Homo sapiens: one gene and its partners. The protein of the gene in region 1 purifies or fractionates together with the protein of each later gene. This does not show direct contact. Each region holds a gene or a part of one and is shown on either strand. Other genes may lie near its edges. The genes, in order: CAPZA2, CRACD, WASHC5 and CNOT1.

The links.
Region 2: the proteins of CAPZA2 (region 1) and CRACD purify together in Homo sapiens (affinity purification with mass spectrometry; 5 studies listed by BioGRID and IntAct, with this or other methods). This does not show direct contact.
Region 3: the proteins of CAPZA2 (region 1) and WASHC5 purify together in Homo sapiens (affinity purification with mass spectrometry; 5 studies listed by BioGRID and IntAct, with this or other methods). This does not show direct contact.
Region 4: the proteins of CAPZA2 (region 1) and CNOT1 purify together in Homo sapiens (affinity purification with mass spectrometry; 5 studies listed by BioGRID and IntAct, with this or other methods). This does not show direct contact.

Annotation. Positions count from the first base shown.
Region 1 is NC_000007.14:116,914,561-116,921,586, forward strand, and holds part of CAPZA2 (F-actin-capping protein subunit alpha-2), read left to right. Parts: intron 1-1,499; coding exon 1,500-1,562; intron 1,563-3,166; coding exon 3,167-3,307; 3' UTR 3,308-7,026. UniProt on the Homo sapiens protein: F-actin-capping proteins bind in a Ca(2+)-independent manner to the fast growing ends of actin filaments (barbed end) thereby blocking the exchange of subunits at these ends.
Region 2 is NC_000004.12:56,311,086-56,318,111, forward strand, and holds part of CRACD (capping protein-inhibiting regulator of actin dynamics), read left to right. Parts: intron 1-122; exon of another isoform or gene 123-523; intron 524-2,111; coding exon 2,112-2,294; intron 2,295-2,954; coding exon 2,955-5,604; intron 5,605-7,026. UniProt on the Homo sapiens protein: Involved in epithelial cell integrity by acting on the maintenance of the actin cytoskeleton. Positively regulates the actin polymerization, by inhibiting the interaction of actin-capping proteins with actin.
Region 3 is NC_000008.11:125,088,780-125,095,900, reverse strand, and holds the start of WASHC5 (WASH complex subunit 5), read left to right. Parts: upstream 1-4,108; 5' UTR 4,109-4,286; intron 4,287-4,503; exon of another isoform or gene 4,504-4,898; intron 4,899-7,121. UniProt on the Homo sapiens protein: Acts as a component of the WASH core complex that functions as a nucleation-promoting factor (NPF) at the surface of endosomes, where it recruits and activates the Arp2/3 complex to induce actin polymerization, playing a key role in the fission of tubules that serve as transport intermediates during endosome sorting.
Region 4 is NC_000016.10:58,542,818-58,549,843, reverse strand, and holds part of CNOT1 (CCR4-NOT transcription complex subunit 1), read left to right. Parts: coding exon 1-125; intron 126-1,210; exon of another isoform or gene 1,211-1,345; intron 1,346-2,161; coding exon 2,162-2,278; intron 2,279-2,547; coding exon 2,548-2,658; intron 2,659-3,094; coding exon 3,095-3,172; intron 3,173-3,345; coding exon 3,346-3,523; intron 3,524-4,352; coding exon 4,353-4,483; intron 4,484-5,940; coding exon 5,941-6,237; coding exon of another isoform or gene 6,238-6,459; exon of another isoform or gene 6,460-6,691; intron 6,692-7,026.

The DNA of each region.
Region 1 (7,026 bases):
AAGCCATCCTCCTGCCTCAGCCTCTCTAGTAGCTGGGACTATAGGCGTGTGCCACCATGCCCAGCTAATTTATTTTTTGTAGAGATGGGGTCTCACCATATTGTCCAGGCTGGTCTCAAACCCTGGCCACAACCAACCTTTCTGCCTTGGCCTCCCAGAGTGCTGGGATTACAGGCATGGGCCACCACACCCAGCCCCTGAAGCTATCTTTTAAAAAAATTTTTACTAGCACTTAGGTGATTTCTGCTTTGACCTAATTGGTACTCTCCTTGCAAAATTTGCCAGTGAAAAAAACTTACTAATGTCTGATTTTCCATGAGATGTTCTCCATATAGTTACATATCATATGTAATTACTACATTCAATATTATTGACATAACAAGGGTATGGTGCCGTCTTGTTTGGGGAGTTTGACATTGAGCGAAGATGCTTCCTGGATGGGTGCGGTGGCTCACGTCTGTAATCCTATCATTTCGGGAAGCTGAGGTAGGTGGATCACTTGAGGTCAGGAGTGCGAGACCAGCCTGGCCAATATGACGAAACCTCGTCTCTACTAAAAATACAAAACCCCATCTCCACTAAAAATACAAAAATGAGACGGGAATGGTGGCACATTCCTATAGTTCCAGCTATTTGGGTGGCTGAGGCATGAAAATTGCTTGAACCTGGGAGGCGGAGATTACAGTGAGCCAAGATCACACTGCTGCACTCCAGCCTGTGCTACAGGCTGAGACCCTGTCTCAAAAAAAAAAAACAGATGCTTCCTAAGAGAAATTTGTCCACAAGAGTACAGAGGGTACGGTTTTGAGAGATGGTCATAGTAATTAAACTTGACTAATATGCCAGTTTGTGCTCGTTTTTTTAGGAATGACCATTTTTACTCTATCTTAGGAGGTTTTCATTGTTTTATATTTTTACACCATATATATAAAGTATAAGGTGTTAGAGACTTTTACATTAACACTGTTTTATTTTTTAAATCCAGATTCTGTTAACTTTACTGTTAGGAAAAAGCAAACAAACCCATCTATTGGCATGTTAAAAAAAAAATTTCCAGAAAAATACATTCTTCCTGATTAGTGATTTTTTTTTTTTTTTTGGTATCACTGTTCTGTTACGTAATGTTCAGTAAATATTTAACAATATTCAGATAAAGAGTCATCAATTAGAAATCTTTACCAAACTTCTTACCCATAAAGGTTGTCTATTGGAATGCATGTCCAGTGTTTAAAATTGAACTTTTCATCCATGTGTGTATCATTGAGATTTCACTTTCCTTAGCCAGCTGAACATTGAGACCAGCTTATTCTGTAGACTTTTAAAATAATTTTACCTATTTTCCCCTTAGACTTAGAATAATTGATCTTACAATATTTATTCTATGTCATAATTTCCTTCTGTGTTATTTATTATAACATTACATTAACCATACATATATTTTAAAATAATAGTGGTTTAGTTTTAAATTACTATTTTTATTTTGTTTTTTTTTTTTTCAGAATGAAGTGCAAACAGCAAAAGAATTTATAAAGATTGTAGAAGCTGCAGAAAATGAATACCAGGTATGATTTTTTAAATATTATATAAGCTACACTCACATATGAATTAATGTCACTGAAATTTTAATTTCAGCCAAAGGCTGAATTTTTCCATTGCATCAGTTAGAGTCTTTTTGTTGTGTGTCTGCTTTTAACACAAAGGCAGACTTACTAATGTGTAGGCAAAAAGAGTGGCAAGTAAATTGAATTCCATTAATAGTTTGTGTTTTCAAAATACTAAGACTAGGCCGAGCGCGGAGGCTCACGCCTGTAATCCCAACACTGGGAAGCCGAGGCAGGTGGATCACGAGGTCAAGAGATCAAGACCATCCTGGCCAACATGGTGAAACCCTGTCTCTACTAAAAATACAAAAATTAGCTGTGTGTGGTGGCATGTGCCTGTAGTGACGAGTGCTACTCGGGAGGCTGAGGCAGGACAATCGCTTGAACCTGAGAGGCAGAGGTTGCAGTGAGCTGAGATCACGCCACTGCACTCCAGCCTGGTGACAGAGCGAGACTCCGTCTCAAAAAAAAAAAAGACTAGGTTTTGGCCAACATAATTTCTGAGTGCAGATTGAGTATCTCTGATCTGAGTTGCTTGGAACCAGAAGTGTTTTAGATTTCAGATTTTTTTGGATTTTGGAATATTTGCATTATCTATTTACCAGTCAAGCTTCCATAATCTGAAAATTAGAAATCTGCATTAGTGCTTCAGTGAGCATTGCCTTTGAGTGTCATGTTGATGCTCAAAATGTTTCAAGCTTTGGAAACTGGATTTTTCAGTTAGGGATGCTCAACCTGTATCAGTCAAAATATGCCAGACTTTAAGTGGCTATTTTTTTTCTGGTTGGAAATTTTAATTCAGGCTGTGTCTTAGCATTTGGATTATGTGTAATCTGTTTAGATCACATTTCATTTTGTGCTTTACTTTTTATATTATTTATCAGCTTCTAAACTACACTCTTGAATTGAACCATTTAATTTGTGAATTGGACAAGTTTCTACTCCTTAAAAATAATAATCTATAAATTGTTCTGACATACTAAAATAAATTCAAAATGACACACAAATATTAAGTCTAATTTATAGTTTTATTTCATTAAGTTTATTCAAAATTATTATAGGCTTTTTCTTCTAGCTGCTTTTATTTTATTTATTTATTTATTTATTTTTGAAGACAGAGTCTTGCTCTGTGGCCCAGGCTGGAGTGCAGTGGCGCGATCTCGCCTCACTGCAAGCTCCGCCTTCCAGGTTCACGCCATTCTCCCACCTCAGCTTCCCGAGTAGCCGGGACTACAGACGCCCGCCACCATGCCCGACTAATTTTTTTTTGTATTTTTGGTAGAGACAGGGTTTCACTGTGTTAGCCAGGATGGTCTCGATCTCCTGACCTCGTGATCCGCCCACCTCAGCCTCCCAAAGTGCTGGGATTACAGGCGTGAGCCACCGCGCCCGGCTCTTCTAGCTGCTGTTAAACAGCTTTTAAAACAATGTTGGGATTTTATTTGACTGTTTAAAAACAGTGAAACAGGCTGCTTAAATAAAACTTATTCTGAAAACATCTATGTGCTTTATAAATTGTTCTGTTCTTTGCTTTACTTTAAACTTCTAACTATTGTTTTTCATAGACTGCCATCAGTGAGAATTATCAGACAATGTCGGACACTACTTTCAAAGCCTTACGTCGACAGTTGCCAGTTACACGCACTAAGATTGATTGGAACAAGATCCTTAGCTACAAGATTGGCAAAGAGATGCAGAATGCATAAGATGAACATTGCATGACCGGATCATTTTAGTGTCTTTGCGTTAAAAAATCATTGCAAAAGTATTCTGAACTGTCAAGCTGCCCAGTCAGATGGGCTGTTGCCATTTAAAATCACTGTAATTAATTAGTTTGATTAGAGCACAAAGCTTAGCTAATCAACCATTATTTTTCATTTTGTTTGTTCTAAGAGGATTGAAAATCAGTTTAGTTTAAATGTCTTTCTGTTAGGCCTTTCTTTCTTACAATGAAGAGATGATTCTTCTAGTTTATGGTTAAAAGTTTTTGAAGTGTCTCAAAAATATTTTACTAACTGTAACCCTAAAATTGATGTCTTTTGGTTTATGAAATCAGTAATTTTTGATATTTCCCCAGTTCTTTTTAATGGGGTCAATAATGGACATTCTAGTTTAAGGTGGTTGATGGATTTAGCCATATATGCTGCTAAAGAAATTGTCTACCTTTTCTTCCTCACCTGTTCCATTTATGTAAAGTTGAGATTAGAGGGAAAGCATTTTCTATATCAATTGTGTTTAAACCTTTCAAGAAGGTTATTTAGCTAGCTTAGTGTTGAACTAAATTTTTTTTAAACAAGGCAAGGTCTAATGCTGTTTTGAGATTCTGAAATTAATGAAAATACTTATTTCAGAAATGCATTTAATGCTTTTTTTCTTGTGACAGTTACGCAAATCAGCTTGAATTCCATATGTCCCTGAGTTATTTTTATCATAAAGCCACAAATGTATTATAACAAGGCAAATTGTAATATATATAATCCTGAACTCATGACCATGTCTCGGTTTATTTTTTTTTTCTTGGATTGAAAAGTACTGAAATTCAATGTGACATTAAAATGCAAATTTTCCTATTTATTTGAGTAGAAAATCACTTACCAGTGAGCATATATATTTTAAAATACTTTCTTTGGATATTGTAATTCTTAACTGGTTGTAAATTAGAAAAGCTGGGATTACATATGGTGTGCGGTTACAGTCTAAATTTTTTCATCCTCCTATGCATCATAAGCATGTTTGTAATATTTTCAAAAATAGTTCTACTGATGCTACAGGAATTTCAAGCCTGTGGTGAATGTTAGTATTTACCATAGGGAGTGAAGTGGAGTTATGGTTTCATTCAATAGAGTATTGCTGATTATACTTGAGTGGAATCCTTTCCTCACGTACTCCCACAGACGTCTGGGCCTGGAAATTTTTTTTTTATTTTATTTTATTGTTTTTTTTTTTAGAAAAACACCACTTTTATTATGTACAATAAAATATTTCATTAGCTTGAATTGTATAGATTTTTAAAAATTCAATGAAAGCATGTTGTTTAATTTCTTTTTAAAATCACTGTTGGGCTTTGAAAGCATTGAGAATATAATATGAAATTATGACATTTTGTCTAAATCATCTTTTCTTTAGTTTTAAAATACAAGTTTTGGCACATTGGGATTCCTAAAGAAAATGAATTGGTAACATTAATTATCTGTTCCTTTTTAAAATATATATATTTGAAAGTTTGATGATGGTGAACTAAATACTAGATCTAATTGACAAGCTTAGTTGTATCAGTTAGGCCATCATGAGTTTCTATCCCATGAAAGTCATCAATTTCCTATCTCTGTTCTAGTCTGGAATGCATTACTGAAAATGTATGCAACTGTTTTTAAGGTGATTTGCTTGTGAGACGGAAGATTTATCAAAAATAATTTAGAACAGGCTGGGCGCGGTGGCTCACATCTGTAATCCCAGCACTTTGGGAGGCCGAGGCGGGTGGATCACGGGGTCAGGAGATTGAGACCACCCTGACTAACACAGTGAAACCCTGTCTCTACTAAAAATACAAAAAATTAGCCGGGTGTGGTGACAGGCGCTTGTAGTCCCAGCTACTCGGGAGGCTGAGGCAGGAGAATGGCGTGAACCCGGGAGGCGGAGCTCGCAGTGAGCCGAGATCGCGCCACTGCACTCCAGCCTGGGTGACAGAGCAAGACTCTGTCTCAAAAAATAATAATAATAATAATAATAATATAATTTAGAACAGTCTGAAATAATGATGGCACAGAATAGTCTTTTATAGTATAAGAATGGCATTTATTAGGCAGGGCACAGTGGCTCACACCTGTAATCCCAGCACTTTGGGAGGCCGAGGCGGGTGGATCACGAGGTCAGGAGTTCGAGACCAGCCTGACCAACATGCTGAAACCCCGTCTCTACTAAAAACAAAAAAAAATTAGCCGGGGATGGTGATGCGCGCCTGTAATCCCAACTACTCAGGAGGCTGAGACAGGAGAATCATTTGAACCCGGGAGGTGGAGGTTGCAGTGAGCAGAGATCGAGCCACTGTACTCCAGCCTGGGTGACACAGGGAGCCTCTGTCTCAAAATAATAATAATAATAAAAGAATGGCATTTATTAAAGTGAAAGAAGAATGGAAACCCAGAGTATCCTATAGCTCAGGGATGTAATTTTAGTAGGAGACATTATGGCTGCTTTGCTGAGTAGGCTGAAGTGTGGTGGCAAAGGCATAATCAGGGAGAACAGCTAGGAGACTACTGCAGTAATCTAGTTGAGAGAGCATGCTGGCTTGGACTGAGGTGGTTGCTGTAGAGGTGGTATAAAGCAGTGAGGTCTAGGTATATCCTAAAGGTAAAATCAGCAAGACCTGGGGAGAGTTTGGTCATGGAGTGTGAGATAAAGAGAACCATGTCTGGGGCTGGAGAAATTGAGGAAGATTCTTGTAGGAGCAAGTTGGTTTGGAGAAGAAGGCTGGTCAGGAGCTCAGTTTTCTATTCAAAGGAGAAATATCTCATGTAGCAGTTAGATACAGGAGACAGGAACTAGAGGAAAGCTCTGGGCTAGAAGAATGGGAAAGTGCATGAACCTGGAAACAATTTTATAGGCAGACAGGATGAAGGACCTCAAGGTTAGTGATAATGAATTTAAAGTAAATGAGACCAATGATGAGCATGGCTGTATGTTTTTCTTCAACCGTGTAAAGCTGTTTGGGTGCAGGCATAGAGTAGATGAAATAAATTTCACCAGGGCTGTGGTTTTGCCCAGAGTGAATGACCACATGAAGAGGGGCAGGGTATGATGATGGTCTGTGGAATTTCAGCTGGGTAAGCAGGGAAGTGAGGGCTTGAGACGGGGGGAGGGATAGTGAAAATGTACAACCAGTGGATTATAGGTGTGTTAAAGTAGGGGAACTAGAAAGAATGACCTGGAAATGTAAGAAGTGGGCCGGGCGCAGTGGCTCATGCCTGTAATCCCAGCACTTTAGGAGGCTGAGGTGGGTGGATCATGAGGTCCAGAGATCAAGACCATCCTGGCCAATATGGTGCAACCCCATCTCTACTAAAAATACAAAAATTAGCTGGGCGTGGTGGTGTGCCTGTAGTCCCAGCTACTAGGGAGGCTGAGGCAGGAGAATCGCTTGAACCCAGGATGCGAAGGTTGCAGTGAGCCGAGATTGTGCCACTGCACTCCAGGCTGGCGACAGAGCGAGACTCTGTCCCAAAAAAAAAAAAAAGTGGTGGGCTGGCCACGATGGCTCACGCCTATAATCCCAGCACTTTGGGAGGCCACGGCAAGTGGATCATTTAAGGTCAGGAGTTCAAGACCAGTCTGGCTAATATGATGAAACCCCTTCTGTATTAAAAATACAAATATTAGCCGGGCATGGTGGCACATGCCTGTAGTCCCAGCTACTCAGGAGGCTGAG
Region 2 (7,026 bases), on another chromosome or scaffold:
TCTTATATTTAGAGAGGCAAAACAAAAACAAAACAAAAAAGCACTTTAGCATTTCTCTACTTTTATGTTGTTTTTTAAACTTTTCTGTGTCCTTTTTTTTAAACCTGGGACTTTACCTGCAGGAGTGTAAGAACCCTGTGGACTCTTCTCCCCGGGCACCTCTTCTGTAGGAGCCGATCTGCCCCATTGAGGACCTTTCATCTGCACAAGGGGCCAGGCATTCTCCCAAGGCCTGGCAGACAGTATAGGAAGCAGGATCTGCTCCTGAAGAAGGGGATGGCTCAAGACAGTGCTGCCGCCCAGACAATGAGGAAGCCAGCTGGGATAGCTAGAAACAAAGCACAGCACTTAAATCTCAGCATCAAGTGCTTATCTATGTCTTCAATCTGTCACATTTGGCTCCGACTCCTTTTTCTCATGCATCTATTAGGGGATGGAAACAAATGTTTCATTCAGCAATAGCTTAGAATCTCATGCCCATTATAAAGATAACCATAAATAAATGAAAGCTAGAAGGCCAAAACTTGATTTTTCTGTGCTTCTTGTCATAAATTAATATATACTGAGCATCCATTTTGCTTTTAGAGCTAGCTGCTTGGTCTTTCATCTTTTGTGCATATAGAAGATAATTGCAAAAAGCAAGCCCATCTGCTAAACCTCACCACTCCATGCCTACAGCAGAAACAAACAAATAAACCCTGGCCACATCGGAGCTGCTGGCATAGTGCCGCACCCCCTGCCACACTCTAGCAGGAGCCCTTTGCTTGCTGCCAGCCTGTGAATTCTCTGTAGGTACAGGCGTGGTGTCCTACCTTCTAATTCAGTGTGGCCTGTGGGTTCGGGCTGTGTCACGATCTCTCTGATCTTTCCAAATCTACCCTTCATCTGAGGTTGTGTTTTTTTTTAGTGATTGCATCTGTATTCTAGAGCTGCAGGCCATTCCACAATTCATCCTTTGAAGGACCGCACTTGTCCCGGTGGCAGATTTTTGCCGCTCATTTTTCTCATCAGGTCCCTCTTCCTTTTATCTTCTCAGTGCAGTCAGTACCCTGAGACTTCTTTGGAGCGATTGTACCAAAACTTTTGTGTGTGTGTGACAGAGTCTTGCTTTGTGGGCTAGGCTAGAGTGCAGCCTAGCGATCTCAGCTCACTGCAACCTCCGCATCCTGGGTTCAAGCAATTCTCATGCATCAGCTTCCCCAGCTGGGATTACAGGTGTGCACCACCACACCCGGCTAATTTATTTTTAAAGTATTTAGTAGAGATGGGGTTTTGCCATGTTGGCCAGACTGGTCTCGAACTCCTGGCCTCAAGTGATCTGCCCGCTTCAGCCTCCCAGAGTGCTGGGATTACAGGTGTGAGCCATCGCACCCAGCCATACCAAAACATTTTTGTCGATCAGGAATTTCGTGTTCCAGGTATAGATGCTATACTTTATTTTCCTTTATTCCTTCAACAGATATTTATTGAGCACTGACCAAATGAGGTTTGCTACGTGGGTGTAAAGGGTACCCATACAAAGATGAAAAAAGACACACTCCCAGCCTCAAAGGGACTAAGTCCTGTGTAGGAGCTGAGGCATATATGCAGTGTCTGAGAGTTTAACAGTTCTTAGCACAGAGGTGATCTAGGCCAGGGGTCAGCAAACTACTCATTATTTTAGGCTTTGTGACATGAAGCTACAAGTACTCTCCTTTGTGCCACTCTTCCTTCATAGCACAAAAAGCAACCAAAGACAATGGGTGTAGCTGTGGCCCGGTAAAACTCTGATTCTCCAAAACAGGCTGTGGGCAGGATTTGGCCTCCTGGCTATGTTTTGCTAATCTTGGAGCTACTCTGAACCTCATATTAGTCAAAGTAGGAAAATTAGTTCCTAAAAGTTATATGACTTTTACAAGTTAATACCAGTGGACGCTGGCAGAACAAATAGTCAATGTCCTTTGGTTCCAAAACGGGTGTTCATTTCATTTTCTGAGGAGTTCCCTCTGCTCACCTGCATTCCCTGGGCCAGGCTGGGCGAGGCGCACACTGGAACGAGTGCCACCGTTCTGCGATTCCCTGCAGGTTGTCTTCTGATCCCAACTGACTTTCTATTTTAATCTCCCCTACAGGTTGCTCCCGTTAAACCGTCTCGGCCAAAAAGGCACTTCTCTTCTGCTGGCACCATCGAAAGTGTCAACTTAGATGCCATCCCCCTGGCCATCGCTCGCCTGGACAACAGTGCCGCCAAGCACAAGCTGGCTGTTAAGCCAAAAAAACAGAGGGTGTCAAAGAAGCACAGGCGCCTTGCCCAGGTGTGTAGAGCCTGCACGGGCTGACCAGGCAGGTGCCCTTGCCTACTGGGCACTAATTCTACAAGTGGGTTGGCATTGGGGTGGAGCCATGTAAAGACCTGAGAGTCTCCCCATCGGGAACTTGAGTGTGTGGCGGTGTTGGGGAATACACAGGCCTGTTTACTTTCCTCGCCCTTTCTGGCATGAGGCTGGTGGACCTCAGAGGGAGCGGTTGCCTTTTGAGGGGCTCCAGACCCGTTGTGTTTGCTTTGCAGTGGAAAAGTGGTTTAGCCAATGCTCCCTCAGTTTGACTAGGATAGGCTTCCAAGTCACAAGCTCCAGGGGACATTAATGAAGTCCAAGTCTCTTTTTGCTCATCTAATGCTTGAATATTGGTTTTCCTCGTTTGTTCATATTAAGGAAAGGAATTAGGGAATGACAAATAAAGGAGCTGGTGGGGAGGGGGGCGCGGAAACAGAATACACGTCCTTTTCTCCATTCGCACGACAGAGTCTTGCGTGGGGTGACCGATGCCTGAGTTTAGCTATCCCTGAACTTGAGAATACCTGCTTCCAGGTGTTCTTGAGAAATTAAGAGGGTCGCTGGCACTGTGAATAGGAAAAGGAACGACTGTGGGTGGAGAAAGCAAAAGGCTAATTGTGTTTTCCTTTCCAATGTTAGGATCCACAACATGAGCAAGGCGGCCTTGAGAGTCGGCCCTGCCTGGACCAGAACGGACACCCAGGCGAGGACAAGCCAACGTGGCACGAAGAGGAACCCAATCCGCTGGATTCCGAGGAAGAGAGAAGACGCCAAGAAGACTACTGGCGAGAACTGGAGGCCAAGTGCAAGCGGCAAAAGGCGGAAGCAGCCGAGAAGAGACGCCTAGAGGAGCAGAGGCTGCAGGCGCTGGAGAGGAGGCTTTGGGAAGAGAACAGAAGGCAGGAGCTCTTGGAGGAGGAGGGCGAGGGGCAGGAGCCGCCTCTAGAGGCGGAAAGGGCGCCGCGGGAAGAGCAGCAGCGGAGCCTGGAAGCGCCAGGTTGGGAGGACGCGGAGCGGAGGGAGCGTGAGGAGCGCGAGCGCCTGGAGGCGGAGGAGGAGCGAAGGCGTCTGCAGGCCCAGGCCCAAGCGGAGGAGAGGCGGCGGCTGGAGGAGGACGCCAGGCTGGAGGAGCGGAGGCGGCAGGAGGAGGAGGAAGGAAGATGCGCGGAGGAGCTCAAAAGGCAGGAGGAGGAGGAGGCTGAGGGATGGGAAGAGCTGGAACAGCAGGAGGCGGAGGTGCAGGGGCCGCCCGAGGCGTTGGAGGAGACTGGGGAGGGCCGGCGGGGCGCGGAGGAGGAGGATCTGGGGGAAGAGGAGGAGGAGGGCCAGGCGCACCTGGAGGACTGGAGGGGGCAGCTCAGTGAGCTTCTGAACGACTTTGAGGAGAGGCTCGAAGACCAGGAACGCCTGAAACCCGAAGGACAAAGAGAACACTCCGAGGAGCCAGGTATTTGCGAGGAGCAGAACCCAGAGGCCGAGCGGCGAAGAGAGCAGCAGGGAAGGAGCGGGGATTTCCAGGGGGCCGATCGTCCTGGGCCCGAGGAAAAGAGAGAAGAAGGGGACACGGAGCCTCTCCTGAAACAAGAGGGGCCGGTGGAAGCCGCGCAGCCTCCGGTGGAGAGGAAAGAAGCCGCCGCCCTTGAACAAGGCCGCAAGGTGGAGGAGCTGCGGTGGCAGGAGGTGGACGAGAGACAGACCATGCCCCGGCCCTACACGTTCCAGGTGTCCTCCGGAGGGAAGCAGATTCTCTTTCCCAAAGTCAACCTGAGCCCCGTGACGCCCGCAAAGGACACGGGGCTCACCGCTGCTCCCCAGGAACCAAAGGCCCCCAAAGCCAGCCCAGTCCAGCACGCCCTACCGTCGTCCCTGAGCGTTCCCCACACCGCCATTCTGGTCACGGGCGCGCAGCTCTGTGGCCCGGCAGTCAACCTGAGCCAGATCAAGGACACCGCGTGCAAGTCCCTCCTGGGCTTGGAGGAGAAGAAGCACGCGGAAGCCCCAGCTGGGGAGAACCCTCCCCGAGGCCCCGGCGACGCGAGGGCGGGCAGCGGGAAGGCTAAGCCCCGCCAGGAGTCTCCCAGCAGCGCGTCCGCACTCGCAGAATGGGCTTCCATTCGGTCCAGAATCCTGAAGAACGCAGAGAGTGACCCGCGCAGCAGCGAGAGGGACCAGTTGAGGCCCGGTGATGAGTCCACTCCCAGGGGCCGGTGTGATTCCCGCGGGAACCAACGGAAGACTCCGCCAGTCAATGCAAAGTTCTCTATTATGCCTGCCTGGCAGAAATTTTCCGATGGTGGCACGGAGACCTCCAAACAGAGCACGGAAGCTGAAAGCATACGAAAAAGACCCATGCTGGGACCCAGCGAAGAGACAGCCCCCCAGCCTCCTCCTGCTGGTGTTCGCGAGCTCGGGAAGGGTCCGGAGAAGTCGGAGATGCACCGGGAGCCCGCAGACACCACCGAGGGATGCAAATTTGCCAAAGACCTCCCGTCTTTCCTTGTCCCAAGCCTTCCTTACCCTCCGCAGAAAGTGGTGGCCCACACAGAGTTCACGACCTCGTCGGACAGCGAGACTGCAAACGGGATAGCAAAGCCAGACCCTGTGATGCCAGGTGGAGAGGAAAAAGCCTCACCGTTTGGAATAAAATTGAGAAGGACCAACTATTCCTTGCGCTTCAACTGCGACCAACAGGCAGAACAGAAGAAGAAGAAGAGGCACAGCAGCACCGGAGACAGCGCGGATGCAGGGCCGCCTGCAGCGGGGAGCGCTCGTGGAGAGAAAGAGATGGAGGGTGTGGCCCTCAAGCATGGTCCATCCCTCCCCCAAGAGCGGAAGCAAGCCCCTTCCACCCGGAGGGACTCCGCTGAACCTTCCAGCAGCCGCTCTGTTCCTGTGGCCCACCCTGGGCCTCCACCGGCCAGCAGCCAGACCCCGGCTCCGGAGCACGACAAGGCAGCAAACAAAATGCCACTGGCACAAAAGCCAGCACTGGCTCCCAAGCCCACCAGTCAGACCCCACCAGCATCCCCACTTTCCAAACTGAGCAGGCCCTACTTGGTAGAGCTGCTGTCTCGCCGAGCGGGGAGGCCGGACCCAGAGCCAAGTGAGCCGTCCAAGGAGGACCAGGAGAGCAGTGACCGCCGGCCACCCTCGCCCCCAGGCCCCGAGGAAAGGAAGGGACAGAAGAGGGACGAGGAGGAAGAGGCGACAGAGAGGAAACCTGCTTCCCCACCTCTGCCTGCCACTCAGCAAGAGAAACCTTCTCAAACACCCGAGGCCGGGAGGAAAGGTAGGTAGCTGCAGGGTGGGTAACTGCTGCCAGCCGAGGTGTCAGAGCCAGGGCATCAAGAAGAGATCCACACGCAGGTTCATGAGAATAATTTACCAACAATACAGATTTGAAAAAGGAAAGTTTTATTAGAACGCTGCAGAACAAAACCGTGGGGCGCCTCAGTGAGAGGACTGAGTGCCCTGGTGGATTTTCCTTAGGAGCATTTATGGACCTTAAGTCGAGAGCTTAAGGGTAATTGGAAGGGTAATTTGGGCCACATTAGCCACGTAGGTCGTGATAAATGATTACATTTGTGGACATTTTGGTGCCTTAATGTCAGCAAGGGTTGCAAAATGAGTTTTGCCATGACATTCCAGAGATGTCTAGAAATTCTAGTTATAAAAGTTGAAAAGCCTGGAACCAGATGCCTATGTTAGATACTAGGGAAGTTTAATTCTGAATTCCCCAGATAAGGAGTTTTGCCTCTGGATGGTCTGTTTGATGGTCACCAGGTGGTCCTTGCGCTCCTTGTCTGCCTCTGTCCAGCTCATTGACTACGTCACTGCTAGAACCAGAAGTGCCCAACGCCAGAGGCAGCCAGTGGAGCTGGTGTTGGGCACACCTTCATTAATTAGAGGCTGGTGTGGGATTCCCGAAAGACACTCACTCGTGATTCATAGTAAGCCTTGTTACTTCTCATTCTTTCAAATTTGGGAAATGCTGACCAACTCTGCAGTGTGTCTGCAGTTCACTCTTGATAATGATACTTATTTACACAAGCGATAAAAGGTGCCAACAGTTAGATGAATGCCTTTTCGGTTGGCAATAGAAATTGAAATAATAATCCCAACGACTGAAGATGTCATTAACCATTTTGAGGGGGCCTCGCAGTGATGATAAAACTGGAGTGTCCCCTACCAGTGTCTTCACTGTATCTCTGGGCAGTAGTGGCACCATGATGGCAGTTTAGGGGACTTTAGGTGTCTCCATCAGACCTATGGATCCTCTCTATGGGATAATTGACTGTCTCCATTTTATGTAAAATGCTCTGCAAATGCAGCTTGGGTCCCTCCATCCCCCCACCCACCCCCTACCCTCACCCAGCTCACCACTGCAGAGCCCTCCTACAAAGAAATTTTGGAGCAAGCCTTACCTCTGGCTGACCCTGATGTTTCTTCAGATTAAATGTTTGGGCCAACAAAGCTGTCAGTTGGATTAGCTTTTGTGCCCCCAGAGAACCTTCATCTAATACTTTTTCTTTTCTATTATGCAGAGTATAGGAGGTAAAGTATGGGTCAAAGCCAAAAGTTACTCACATTTCCCAGAGAAATTGTCCCCTGAGGTTTTCTTAGGAGGGATTGTTTTCTCCTTTGTTCAAGTATTTAGATTTGGGGCAGTTTTTGCAGAGGAATGATTTGTTTCCTGAGGAGTGTTGGTCTG
Region 3 (7,121 bases), on another chromosome or scaffold:
TTTTTTTTTTTTTTTTTTGAGATGGAGTTTTGCTCTTGTCCCTCAGGCTGGAGTGCAGTGGCACTACCTTGGCTCACTGCAACCTACGCCTCCCAGGTTCATGCAATTCTCTTGCCTCAGCCTCCCCAGTAGCTGGGAGCTACATGCCAGGCTAATTTTTGTATTTTTAGTAGAGACGGGGTTTCACTATGTTTGCCAGGCTGGTCTCAAACTCCTGACCTCAAGTGATCCACCGGCCTCGGCCTCCCAAAGTGCTAGGATTACAGGCGTGAGCCACTGCCCCTGGCCTCGGTTTTCTTTTTGTTTTTGAGACAGGGTCTTGTTCTGTCACCCAGGCTGGAGTGCAGTGACATGATCATGCTCGCTACAGCCTCAACCTCCCAGGCTCATGTGATTCTCCCACATTAGCCTCTCAAGTAGCTGGGACCACAGGCGCGCGCCACCACTTGGCCAATTTTTCTTTTTTAATTTTTAGTAGAGACGACCATCTCCCTGTGTTGCCCAAGCTGGTCTCAAACTCCTGAGCTCAAGTGATCCTCCCAACTCGGCCTCTCAAGTGCTGGGATTATAGGCATGAGACACCATGATCAGCAGAAGTATTCTGTTTTCTACTCAGTCTTGATTCTAGTGTAAGTCTAAATTGTCCAGAGCAGCATTGTCCAATAGAACTTTCTGTGATGAAAACGTTCTATAATCTGCACTGTCCAATATGATAGGCACTAGGCACATGTGTACTGATTATCTAAAACCTGGCTGGAAAGGTGGCTCATGCCTATAATCCCAGCACTTTGGGAGGCCAATGTGGGAGGTTGGCTTGAGCCCAGGAGTTCGAGACCAGCCCAGGCAATAAAGTGAGACTCTGTCTTTACAGAAAATAAAAAATTAGCTGGATGTGGTGGTGCGGGCCTGCAGCCCCAGCTCCTCAGGAGGAGATGTGGTAGGATCGCTTGAGCCGGGAGGTTGAGGTTGCAGTAAGCCATGATCACGCCACTGCACTCCAGCCTGGGCAACAGAGCGAGACCCTCTTTTCTCAAAAAAAAGAGAAAAGAAAAGAAAAGGAAGAGACGCCAGGGACTGCTCTCTCTCTCTCTCCCTACCATGTGAAGACACATAAAAAGGGCAGCCATCTACAAGCCAAGAAGAAAGTCCTCACCAGAATCCAACTATGCTGGCAACCTCACCTTGAACTTCTGGCCTCCAGAACTGTAAGAAATAAATTTCTGTTGTTTAAGCCACCCAGTCTATGGTATTTTGTTATGGTAGCTTGAACAAAGACACAGTATCTATGAAGATTAATGCAATCCAGTATAAATGGAAAGTATCTACCAAACAGTAGCTGTCACTATTTGTTTGAATGCAAAACTCACATTACTTTAGTGAAACTTCACTTTTGCAGAGGACCAAGGAAAACACGATCATGCTCTTCTGTAATTCTGGAGTAGGGAAAAGATTAAGACTGAGATTGAATTGAAAAGCAAAGGCAATGGATGGTGCAGAAAGATGGAACAGACATACTTTTCTCAATCTCTCCCAATAAATACAGCTAAGTACAAGTCAAAGACAACTCCTTTCTCTGACTCTAACAGCACCTTCTTTGATATAATTATAATTATAGTCACTCCACTTTGTTAGTGACTATCTTGCAAGATGTTAGCAGTGCTTCACAAACAGCAAGTGCTCTGAAAATAGTCAATAAATGAATAAATTAACTGTCTGCTTCAGTCAGATTCATAGCTCTCCTGTTTCCTTCTCCCCTTCATACCCAATATTCTTAATCTCAGCTCCAGACTTTGTTCAGGCTGGGTGTGGTGGCTCATGCCTATAATCCCAGCACTTTGAAAGGGCAAGGCAGGAAGATTGCTTGAGGCCAGGAGTTTAAGACCAGCCTGGGCAACACAGCAAGACCCCAACTCTACAAAAAAAAAAAAAATTTAAACTTACACAGACATAGTGGCTTGCACCTATTGTCCTAGACCCTCGGAAGGCTGAGGTGGGAGGACTCCTTGGGTCCAGGAGTCCAAGGCTGCAGTGAGCTATGATCATGCTACTGCATTCTAGCCTGGACGATAAGAGTGAGACGCTGTCACCAAAAAGGAAAAAGAGGACTTTTCCTCATCCTGCTCCCACCATGAGAAAACCTTCTCTTCAGTTTTCTTTCTATTTATTTATTTATTTTTTGAGACAGAGTTTCGCTCTGTCGCCCAAACTGGAGTGCAGTGGCATGATCTCGGCTCACCTCAACCTCTGCTTCCTGGGTTCAAGGGATTCTCCTGCCTCAGCCTCCCGAGTAGCTGGGATTACAGGTGTGTGCCAGGACACACCAATTATGTTATTTATTTACTTATTTATTTATTTATTTATTTATTGTATTTTTAGTAGAGAGAGGGTTTCGCTATGTTGACCAGGCTGGTCTCAAACACCCGACCTCAAGTGATCCGCCCGCCTTGGCCTCCCAAAGTGCTGGGATTACAGGCATAAGCCACTGTGCCAGGGCCTCTCTTCAGTTTTCTATCTGCCCACATCTTACCCATATGCTAAAGTCTGAATGTTTGTGTCACCCAAAATGTATATGTTGAAATCCTAACTTCCAAGGTGATGGTATTAGGAGGTGGGGCCTCTTGGGAGGTGATGAGGCCCACTTTCATGAATAAGATTAGTGCCCTTTTAAAAGATGCTCCAGATAGCTGCTTTGCCATTCCACCATGTGAGGACACAGCAAGAAGCCACCTATGAACCAGGAAACAGGCCCCGGAACTGTGAGAAATAAATTTCTGTTGTTCATAAGCTACCTAGTTTATGGCATTTCCGTTACAGAAGCCCACATTGACTAAGATACCATCTTTCATGGCTTGGTTTAAGTGGTTCTCAACCAAGAAGGATTTTACCCCTCTCGCAAGGGGACATTTAGCAGTATCTGTAGACTTTGTGGTTGGCATCTAGCGGGCAGAGGCCAGGGATGCTCTTAAGCATCCTACAAAACACAGGACAGCCCTCACCCTGACCCCACAGCAAAAAATTATCTGGCCTAAAATGTCAATAGTGCATCAGTTGAGAATAACTGGTTTAAATCAATCTCTCTTGGATCCCTCCCCAGGTAATAACACTGATCTTTTTCTTCCCGGTACCTATGATCTCCAAGAAAGTTTAGAACAAGTTGTGCATTTCCTGAGTTTTTTCTCTGCATGTTATTTATAGACAATATGTTGACTTCCTTTAAATCCATGGGAGCCTTGTACAAGTCAGCCAGAGCTGCCTCTCCTTTTTCAACATGCAAGGATAATCCCTTCTCTCTGAATCCTTCTCATACAATTGCTTTTCCCTCCCTCATGCTACCATTATCCCTATCACATGCACATGTACACAACACACTCCTATTATGAAACTCATCACAACTATTTGCTCACATGTCTGCAGCTTCTTTAAACTGACACCTCCTTAAACTAGAACCCTGACATATTCTATTGCATATAAAGCAATTCCTCACACAAAATAGGGGACCAATAAAGATTTGGCCAGTTACAAAAATAACAACAGACATCATCATTTCTCGGTCACCTACAGAATGCCATAAACTGGTGTCCCGGCACTTTATTCTCCTTATCGCTAATTCTCACTGCAATCTACATAACTGAAGAGGAAATTGAGGTCCAGAGAGTTTATTCAAACGACCTTCCCGTGGCCTTACTTTTAAAGTCAGTTCAAACAAAATCTATTTGGATCAAAAATTCGTAATCTTGCCCCTACACACTTGAGGCGAAAGGATGGAGAGATGGCGTCTCGGACAGGAGGGTAAACTGTCCCAGACTCACTACCGTGGCGTGAAAAGTTCCACAACCATAATCCGGGTAGACGGACCCCCGGCTCGGAGTCCCCGTGGAGTGTCCCTGAGGGTGGCGAAACTCCTGCCACCCTCCCCATTGCCGTCCCCCGCTTCTTCCCTACCTGGTAGTCCAAGCTGTCTCCGTCTGGTGGCACCCCAATTTCCCCTGCCTAGACCCACCTCCTTTCCTCAGCCCCCTTCGCCTGCCGCTGAAAAGTGAGAGCGGGCTCTTGCGTCATCAGCCGTCGCCGGCGAGTGGTCACATGATGCCCCTCCCTGCTCCCAGCCGCTTCGGTCATGTGACCGCCTGGGGAGTCAGGGGCGGAAGTCGGGGTCTGACCCGCTCCAGGTCCGGGACTGCGGATAGAAGAGGACCGCCGCCTTGAGGGAGGGGTGGAAACTGGGTGCCGGCTCCGCGCGCGACCTCCGGCCCTGCGCGTGCGCCGTGGCGCGGCCCGGCTGACAGGTGAGTGGGGATGGAGTGAGCGCGCCCCATTTTTGCATGGCCCCCTTCCCCTCCCCGCTGGGCCGCGCTGGCCACGGGGAGGTCTGCAGAGTCGCGTGCAGCCTGGATGGGGGACTCGGGATGGAGGGCTTAGGGGCTTTCTGGGGCGGGGGCTGTAATCCAGCTCTTCGTCTCCGCTTAGGGGGAAATCATTTTGCACACCCCTTCCTCGCTTTAGGAAGCACCGTTCAGCTGCTTGGTCCGAATCTCATCCTTCCAAGTTTCCGGGAACACTGCTGTATGGATGTCGTCGTTATTTCTCTTTGCTTTTGAGAAAACTGAAAGGCTAGTAGTGAGGACTTTTACAGGCTGACAGACGTGGATTTGCATTCTAGTTATGCCATGGGCTGTGAGTTTGGGCAAGTCATTGCTGCTCGCCGCGCCTTAATGCCTTCACCTGTGACATACTGATGTCAAAATCCTTTGCATTTGGGGGAAAAAAAAAAAGTTCCCAGGGCCCTGATTCCTGGGATCGGAATCAGGATTATGATCGGACAGGAGAAAGAAAAAAAGTCACAGAGCCATAAAACTGGGTCTCCTGATTGCAAGCGCATGGAGCTCCCTCAAACATAGGTGAGGCGTAGTGAGGGCGAAGTTTTACTGTCTTTGTGCACTACAAGGGACACCTTCTCTAATTGTCCTTCACCTGCCTTTCCCAGGATTTCAGGTTCAGCCTCATTTCAGAACTTTTCTGGAAAATATATGCAGCTTGCATTTATCTTGATCAGCAACCGTTATATTTTGTTTGTGATAATGGATTTGTGGAGACCAGTGCTTCCTTTATGGAACTGAGGTTTTGCGAAAGGCTAAAAATAGACCTGCCTTCTTTTGTCCTCTGAAGAGGGTAAACTGTTTGTCCACGACAATTCGATTTCCTTAAGAAATATTATTCTGTACTCAGGGTAATTGGTGTAAGGATGTCATGCCTTATTCTTGAAAGCATGTCTTTTGATTAGGATTACTTCCCAAACTGAAAATCACAGTTCCACGCCAAATTATTAAAAATGAAGTTACCGGCACTTGTAAAAGAAAATAAGAAAATATAGTGGGATCTCTGGATTTCATGCCAATAATAATATAGCCTGTATTGAGAAAACTGATCTTCAAGTGTTCTTGATCCCTAGCACCAAGAGAACCTCTGAAAGGATAATTTAACATAGCTTCTTCTACAGTGTTTATTTGGACCTAATTCTAAAGTGGTTTTTTAAGACTTAGCTGAGTCTTAACACTTTGTAAAGCCATCCACCTACCTCTTAGCTGCAACTTGATTAGGCATTTTTAATGATGGTTCTTAGATTCTGTTCTTCAGGACTAGTCCTTCAGCCAACGAGGGGGCTATTTACCAAATACTCTAGCCAAATTATATTTGTACAAATTATGGAAATTCCATTTGTTACATGGAAAATATAACTAGTCCGGGTTAGGAGGTCTAGTACATAAAATGTAACTAAGTGATTTCCTTCTTTCAGCTAATCTTGTTTTAACTTCTTCCATCTTCAAAAACTTAGCAGGAGATGCTTGCATTATTAGAAATAGAAAACACAAGTGCCCTTCATGGGGCAAAACAGATTACAAGCAGTGAGTTCATTTCAGTAAAAGTATATTAAATATAACTCATATGCTTTTGCATTAAAAATTTAATATAAAGTTTATATATAGAATTTTAGAAAGGTGATTTACCTAGGTAATAAAGACCCATAATATTTGTTTTACTATTGCCGAACATATTTGGTTATTATTATCCTCCTCATGTTCTTTTAAAGTTGTCTACAGCGTAATTCTTGAGTAAGGGACTAAGGATTAAAACAAGAGATTGACACACGAAAGTCTTGATCTCTGTCGTTATCCCAGACTGAAGCTTCCCCGAATGTGTGCATGCAGGTGCTGAGTCTGTCTGTCCTTCTGTATGTTGGGAGAGAGTAGAGTAAAGGGCAAGTAATGTTACTTTGCTTTAAGTTGTTTTTCCCAGGGCCACATTGTTGCCCTGTCATGGTATCCCAAATCGGGTAGCCATTGGACCTGTTAATCATAGCTTGTCCTCCTCTTCATGAGTCTAGAGCAAGCTTGTGTAGCCTGAGGCCTGCAGGCCACATGCGGCCCAGAATGGCTTTGAATGTGCCCCAATACAAATTTGTAAACTTGCTTAAAACATTATGAGATTTTTTTGCGATTTTTTTTAAGGTCATCAGCTATTTTTGGTGTTAGTGTATTTTATGTGTGGCTCAAGACAATTCTTCTTCCAATATTGCCCAGGGAAGCCAAAAGATTGGACACTCCTGGTGTAAAGTTTCATCCTACTTAGACCTTCTGGGTTAGTTTGGTGGTCTTCAGAGGGCTTTAGTATGTGACTGTTTTGCCCACTGTCCATTATTTCCCCTTTCCCTCTCTGCTTTCCCAAGCCAGACCATATCCATGCAGAAAATGAAATGAAATTATCTGAAATTCAGCCTGTTAGAGATCAGTGTGGTTTAACAAGCAAGTATCACAGAGGAAACTAAAAGAACTTGTTAATAATGTATGCCTTAATGTGTATTACAGGGTACCTTCATGGGAGTTCTAGACAGCTGTAGTGGCTTCTTGGCTCTCAGATCCAATCCAGTCTACTTCTTCTGTTTCCGCCCCTAGCTGACTCTGCTCCAGCCACTTTAGCCACCTTGCTAGCCATCTAGCACATTCCTGCCCTGGGGCCTTTGCACTTACTTGTAACCTCTGCTTGGGATGCCATTATTAGGATCATTATCTATTGCTGCATAATAAACTATGCCAGAACCCAGTGGCTTAAGACAATAAGCTTTA
Region 4 (7,026 bases), on another chromosome or scaffold:
ATCTGGTTATGAAGAGAGTCAGTATTGAGCCAAACTTTCATAGCCTGTATTCAAACTTCCTTGACACGCTGAAGAATCCTGAATTTAACAAGATGGTTCTGAATGAGACCTACAGAAACATTAAAGTAAGAGTTGGTTCTTATATTTCCTTTAATTATTGCTTTGAATTTGGAAATATTTGATTATATAGGTAGGATTTTTGCTATTTTTCCATATATATTGTCAATATTAGGTACCTCTGGAAATTGCTGTAGATTTTGTTTCTTATATGGAACTAAATTTTATGCAGAACTTAAATTTATAGGCATACCCTGTGCCTTTTCTTTGAAAGTAACCACTATTATGAATTGTTTTTGTCATGCCATGCATGATTTTAGAACTTTACCACTGTTATACATAAGCAGCATAGTATTGGTTAGCATATTCTGTATGGTGTCGCCCTCTGTACATCCTTTTCTTTTTTTTTCACTTACTTTTTTTTCTCCCCTGGATATTATTCATGATAATGATAATGCTCTTTGCTGTAGCCCCCTTTTTTTTTTTTTTTCAATTTTTTTGAGATGTGGTCTCACTCTGTTGCTTAGGCTGGAGTGCAGTGGCACGATCTCGGCTCACTGCAGCCTCCACCTCCCAGGTTCAAGCAGTTCTCTTACTTCAGCCTCCCGAGTAGCTGGGATTATAGTTGTACCGCCATGCCCAGCTAATTTTTATATTTTTAGTAGAGACGGGGTTTAATCATATTGGCCAGGCTGGTCCCGAACTCCTGACCTTAGGTGATCCACCCTCCTCGGCCTCCCAGAGTTCTGGGATTACAGGCCTGAGCCACTGTGCCCGGCCAGTCCTCTTTTTTAAAAAACAGAAAAATATAGTCTTGTAGAAAACCATTGTATGTATTTGTATTGCTGCTGGGCATTTGTGTTGTTAATCACTTAAACTATTATAAACAATGCTGTCCTGAATGTTTTCGTTTGTATCTTGTAGTATTCAAGTGCAAGATATCTTTAGACTCTAAATCTGTTTGTGGAATAGCTGTTGTCTAGGAGTCTGTGCAGTTTAAGGTCAAATTCTACTGAGCTGAGGCTTATTCAACAAAATTCAAGTATTTTAATTTCTAAACCATCATTTATTTCTTAGGAGGAAAAACTTCTAGAACCAGCATACAGCTGTGGTCATTCTTTGCTCAATAACTTGGGTCATTGGCTTAGGAACCAGCACTATATTTAAACCTGTGGATGGGAATATTCCCCATTCTTGGTTACGCTGTAGTGCAAAAGAATTCCTGGCTCTCTGTTGCACAGCTGACTTGTGCCATTCTGCTGTTGCTGTATAGAGTTAAGGAACATGGCTCTATTTCGTTTTTATTATCTGATAGCAAGGGTGGTTGGGATACATAAAAGTTTCCACATACTCTGTAGCAAAGTTTCAAGACCATGTTTTTTAAACAGAAGTTTAAATATAGCCCTAAGTCAAGAGGTACCACAGAGTAGATGGGTATATACATGTGTGCATACCTGCAGCCAAAACACTCTCCTATGTTAGTTCTGCCCCCCCTTAGAAAAACAGTAACCGGAGAATCAGTTAAATGGTTTGGGTTTTTTAGAAATTTGAAAAGAAGTATATAAACAGTATTATACTATATCTCAGAAAGTTATCTTGGTTGGCTGCAGAGATTTGTTAATGACCTGGGTATACTGAAGATTGCAATAGGAGGCTAATTTGATTATATTCCTTTGTATGCTTGCTGCCTTTAAGGACTTAAGCATGGCTATCATCCTCATTTAAATTAATTTAGCACTTCAAAATAGCTTTGTAGTTAGGTCTCTGCTTTAAACCTAGCTAAGGTTTTCAGAGTTGAAAATACTTTTCTAGGGGAGGATAGCTGGCACATAACTTTGTGTTCTTTTTGAATTTTGTGCAATGTGTTTGTACCTATTTTGAAAAAATAAAATGTAAAGACTTCTTCAAGGTAAAAATAGCACTGTTGAATCATAAACACAGCAAAATGATATTGAGAATGATATACAGAGTAATTCTACTTTGGGGCCTGTTCTTAGAAATGATGACTTGTCTTTAGGATAGGATAATGGAATTCTCAAATACTTAGTTGAGTTTTCTTTCATAAGCTTATTCTCATATCTTTCTTAATCTTACACTATTTCAGGTGCTCCTGACCTCTGATAAAGCTGCAGCCAATTTCTCAGATCGTTCTTTGCTGAAGAACTTGGGACATTGGCTAGGAATGATCACATTAGCTAAAAACAAACCCATCTTACACACTGTGAGTTTCATCTAAATGTGTAAAAATTGAGAATCTTCAGCACATTATGATTACAAGTATTGGCTGTTTGGAGCTATTTAATGATTATTGGGGTTTTGTAAGATTTTGGCCCACGTTTTGAGTTGTTAACCCCTTTTTGTAAGGCAAGGACTAGACATTATGTTGATTCCTGTTTTGGGGATAAGCTTGGCAAAATACTTTTCTTTGGTTTTGTTATACCATTTTGGGGGGTATATTCCCCGCTTTTGAAAGTATTTTTCTTATTCTAGGACTTGGATGTGAAATCATTGCTGCTAGAGGCTTATGTTAAAGGACAACAAGAATTGCTCTATGTAGTGCCCTTTGTTGCCAAAGTCTTAGAATCTAGCATTCGTAGTGTGGTGAGTAGATTTTAATATTTTATTTATGACTAATTTCTAAGCATTGCTTTGTTTTAGCATGAGGTCAAGAGATTATATTCTTAGTTCTTGTGAGGTAAAGCTAGTTAAGTCTGTTTTCCTCTATGGCACTTGGATTTCCAATTTGAGAGGCTGGGTGAAATAAGAAAGATTATAATGGTTGGCTTTGGTTTTTGGTTTTTTGTTTTGTTTTGTTTTTGAAATGTGATATAGGTGAGAAGGCTAGGGGTTTTGTTATGGCTACAGAGGTATAAGTGTTTAACTATGTTTAACTGTTTTTGGTTATTTTTTAATCCTTGTTTTTTGTTTTTTATTTGTTTGACTCCCCCCTACCCCCTTATGTTGTATTGAATTGTTTTAAATAATCCAAATTAAAGGGCACATTTTGGGCCAGCTTAACATAATAGCTTTTCTTTAGGTTTTTAGGCCACCAAACCCTTGGACAATGGCAATTATGAATGTATTAGCTGAGCTACATCAGGAGCATGACTTAAAGGTAATTTACTGCTTCCTTGTCCTCTGGAACATTCTTTGCCTTCACATTATTAAAACTTACAGTGAAGGCAGGGTATTTCGGGGGAAGTACTATAATAACTGAAAGTAGAGTATATTATGAGTAAAACTAAAGTTTTCTTTTAAAAATTCTAATCCAACTCTGGAACTGTGCAGTTAAACTTGAAGTTTGAAATCGAGGTTCTCTGCAAGAACCTTGCATTAGACATCAATGAGCTAAAACCTGGAAACCTCCTAAAGGATAAAGATCGCCTGAAGAATTTAGATGAGCAACTCTCTGCTCCAAAGAAAGATGTCAAGCAGCCAGAAGAACTCCCTCCCATCACAACCACAAGTAAGTGTGCTAATTAGTCAAGGAAGGCTTCTGTTAGCTAGGATACTATCTTAAATGGTACTTGTCCATGTATATCGCAAACTATAATTTCCCACATAATGTAGTGGTGAAACTTTGTATACGTTTTGGTGAGCCTTCTAATTATCAAGCAGAAGTAATGACTAGGCCTTGTGTTACCATCTTAGATTCCATCCTGACAGTTCATGCATATTATTAACTAAATGTGATTTAATCAGTTGCCTCTCATACCCCAGCTAGGCCAGGTTATCTCCTTTGTTGTGTGAAGTCCCAGAAATAACTGCATACTATGATGGCCTGTTAACCCCTCAAATCTGGGTATGGCCAGACCTGCTAGATCTGCCAAGGGAATGGGACTGTTTTATCTACATGAAGAAGATGGGAGAAGGGTATGGGAGTGTTGAATGATTGGGAGTTGTGGTTAGAATAAATTGAGCTTTTCTTTCTTTCTCAGTCCTCAGCAGCTGAGAATCCCCAGATAAACCTAGGAACAGGCTAGGTTGAAAACATACATTTATAATATAGACTAAGTTTATAGGACTTGGGCCTGACAATATGGCATGGCTGCTCAGTTGATTTCTGTGCTGTGGGGCACTGGCACTGACATAGTTTAACATACTTCGTGTATATCTCTGTTATAACAACAGAATTTCCCTTTCAGGGTGGGAAAAATAGGACCTGCTACATCCTTCCCTCCTCTCCCAATTTAATTCGTTTAATTAGATAATGACCACTTAATGATATTAAGCTAATTTTATAATAAAGTCAACAAATGTACTTTTTAAATCTCTTTTTATTACTTGACATTTAGCAACTTCTACTACACCAGCTACCAACACCACTTGTACAGCCACGGTTCCACCACAGCCACAGTACAGCTACCACGACATCAATGTCTATTCCCTTGCGGGCTTGGCACCACACATTACTCTGAATCCAACAGTAAGTAAACACTGCTCCATTCTCCCAGCTTCTAGTTTGTGATAAGGTAAATTTTGTTTGGCCACCTTTTCTTCAGCTCTTTGCCCTTCCCTCTGGATTCCTAGGTTGTAGAGTTTGTCAGAGAGGATGGAGATCTAGAACTGCTGTGTAGTTCAGTTGGGATTGTTCTTCTTCCCTTAAGAGATAGAGTGACTAGATGTTAGTTATATTGGTTCCTCATATCCAAACCCATGATACTAAAATTTAGCTAGCAATAAAATCACAATCTCCAGGAATTCCTTACACAGAGTAAAAGATGCTTAATGTATATCATAGCTTTTTATTTTCTTTATCTTGTCACTTTAGCCTTCTGCAGTAAGCCATTTCTTCCACCTGAAGGCTGGAAATGAGCTGATTGTGGGTGTGTATACAATTTCTAGGCTAAGATCTTGAAGTAGGACTTAGCACTTTGAGTTATGTTGTTGTGGCCTGGTTCCAGAAGGAGGTCTGATACAATATGGTCATGTAAGATGACCTCTGATCAGTCCTTTTTCCTATAGTTAGTATTTGCTTTGTACATTCAAGGGGACATTTTATTGTTATCTTTAGTCTTTTATTCTACTTAACAGAATATATAATACAGAATCAGGTGAGTGGAGTTTTCATTGTCCTTACTTTTTAGAAACTGAAAATGTTCACAAATACAAGAGTAACATTAATACATTGAACTTTTTATTAAAAGGAATTGAAAGGGTATCAGAGAAATCATTTTATCCTTGTCCCCCCATCCCCACTCCTATAGACATGGTACTTAGTTTTAGAGGGGTGGAGTGAGAGGCAGTGGGACACCTAGATCCAGAAATTGTGATTCATCTTTAGAATACTCTTAGTGTTGTGAACACTATTATATGCTAGTTTAATTTTTTTTTTTTTTAATTCAACAAGTTAAAGGGACCAAGTAAGTTTTGGGGCATAATTTACACCTGCAATAAAAGATTAGAAACAGCCTTTCAAATGAAGCCAAATACTTCAGTGGGCACTGTAAAATGCTCACTATTCTGATGAATTAATTTTAATAGTTTTTGTAAGAAGTCTTTTTTCTATAAACTTTATTCTTTTTACATTTTCCCAAGCTAGTGGAGAAGTTGCTTTCTTTTAAGAGCACTTGAGCCACAAATTTTAAATAAGCCAGCAGTGTGTCTTTAAGTAGTTAATGCATATTGTAATGAACAGTTTGTCCATTAAACTTGGATTTAAAAAAAAGACATATCTATTATTGTGTATCACAGGGTATACTGAATACATTTCCCTGTATGGAGCTCAGTTTCTGTTACCCGAATTTTCCATTGGTTAACTTTAAGTAGAAACTGGTAGTTTTTGGTTAATCTTGATTTACAAAATCATGAATGTGATTGCCAGTAGGAATTGGATTGTCTTATTTAAACAAGGTGTTGACTTTGTCCTCCCCAACCCCCCAGATTCCCTTGTTTCAGGCCCATCCACAGTTGAAGCAGTGTGTGCGTCAGGCAATTGAACGGGCTGTCCAGGAGCTGGTCCATCCTGTGGTGGATCGATCAATTAAGATTGCCATGACTACTTGTGAGCAAATAGTCAGGAAGGATTTTGCCCTGGATTCGGAGGAATCTCGAATGCGAATAGCAGCTCATCACATGATGCGTAACTTGACAGCTGGAATGGCTATGATTACATGCAGGGAACCTTTGCTCATGAGCATATCTACCAACTTAAAAAACAGTTTTGCCTCAGCCCTTCGTGTAAGTTGGCTATTTCCTTGGTATAGGTACAAAACGTATTACTGCTTGTCTGTAATAATTTTTTTCTTTGTCTATATATGGCACTGGGCGTTACCACTTATTCTTAATAATCACCATATTTGTTTGATGTCTTCCATCATTTTAGATTGTAATTCTGTGAGGCAAAGCATCATGTCTGTGTGTTTTTTTTTTTTTCTGTTATATTCTCAACACGATGTTTGACAGATAGTAGATACCCAAATATTTGTTGGTTTAAATAAATTAAGATTTAAAAAGGAAATGTGATATCTGACAATCTCATTTCTGTTAACCAGGAAGGATGAAAGCTGTTTGAGAAGGCCGATACAAAATGACTTAAAGTGATGTTGCATGTGCACACACTTTTCAAATAATTCACTTACTAGTTTTGAGTCTCAGATATCATGGTTAATAATTCAGGTATCATGATTAATAATTTGTTTACTGCTTTAATGATTTTTTTTGGTTGTTTTTTGCCTTTTTTTTAATGTTTCATGAGACAGGGTCTCACTCTGTAGCTTAGGCTAGAGTACAGTGGTGCAGTCTTGGCTCACTGCATCCTCCACCTCTGAGGTTCAACTGATTCTCGTGCTTCAGCCTCCCAAGTAGCTGGGATTACAGGCATGTGCTACCACGCCCCACTAATTTATGTATTTTTTTAGTAGAGAAGTGGCTTCACCATGTTGGCTAGGCTGGTCTCAAACTCCTGGCCTCAAGTGATCTACCTGCCTTGGCCTCCCAAAGTGCTGGGATTAGAGGTGTGAGCCACCG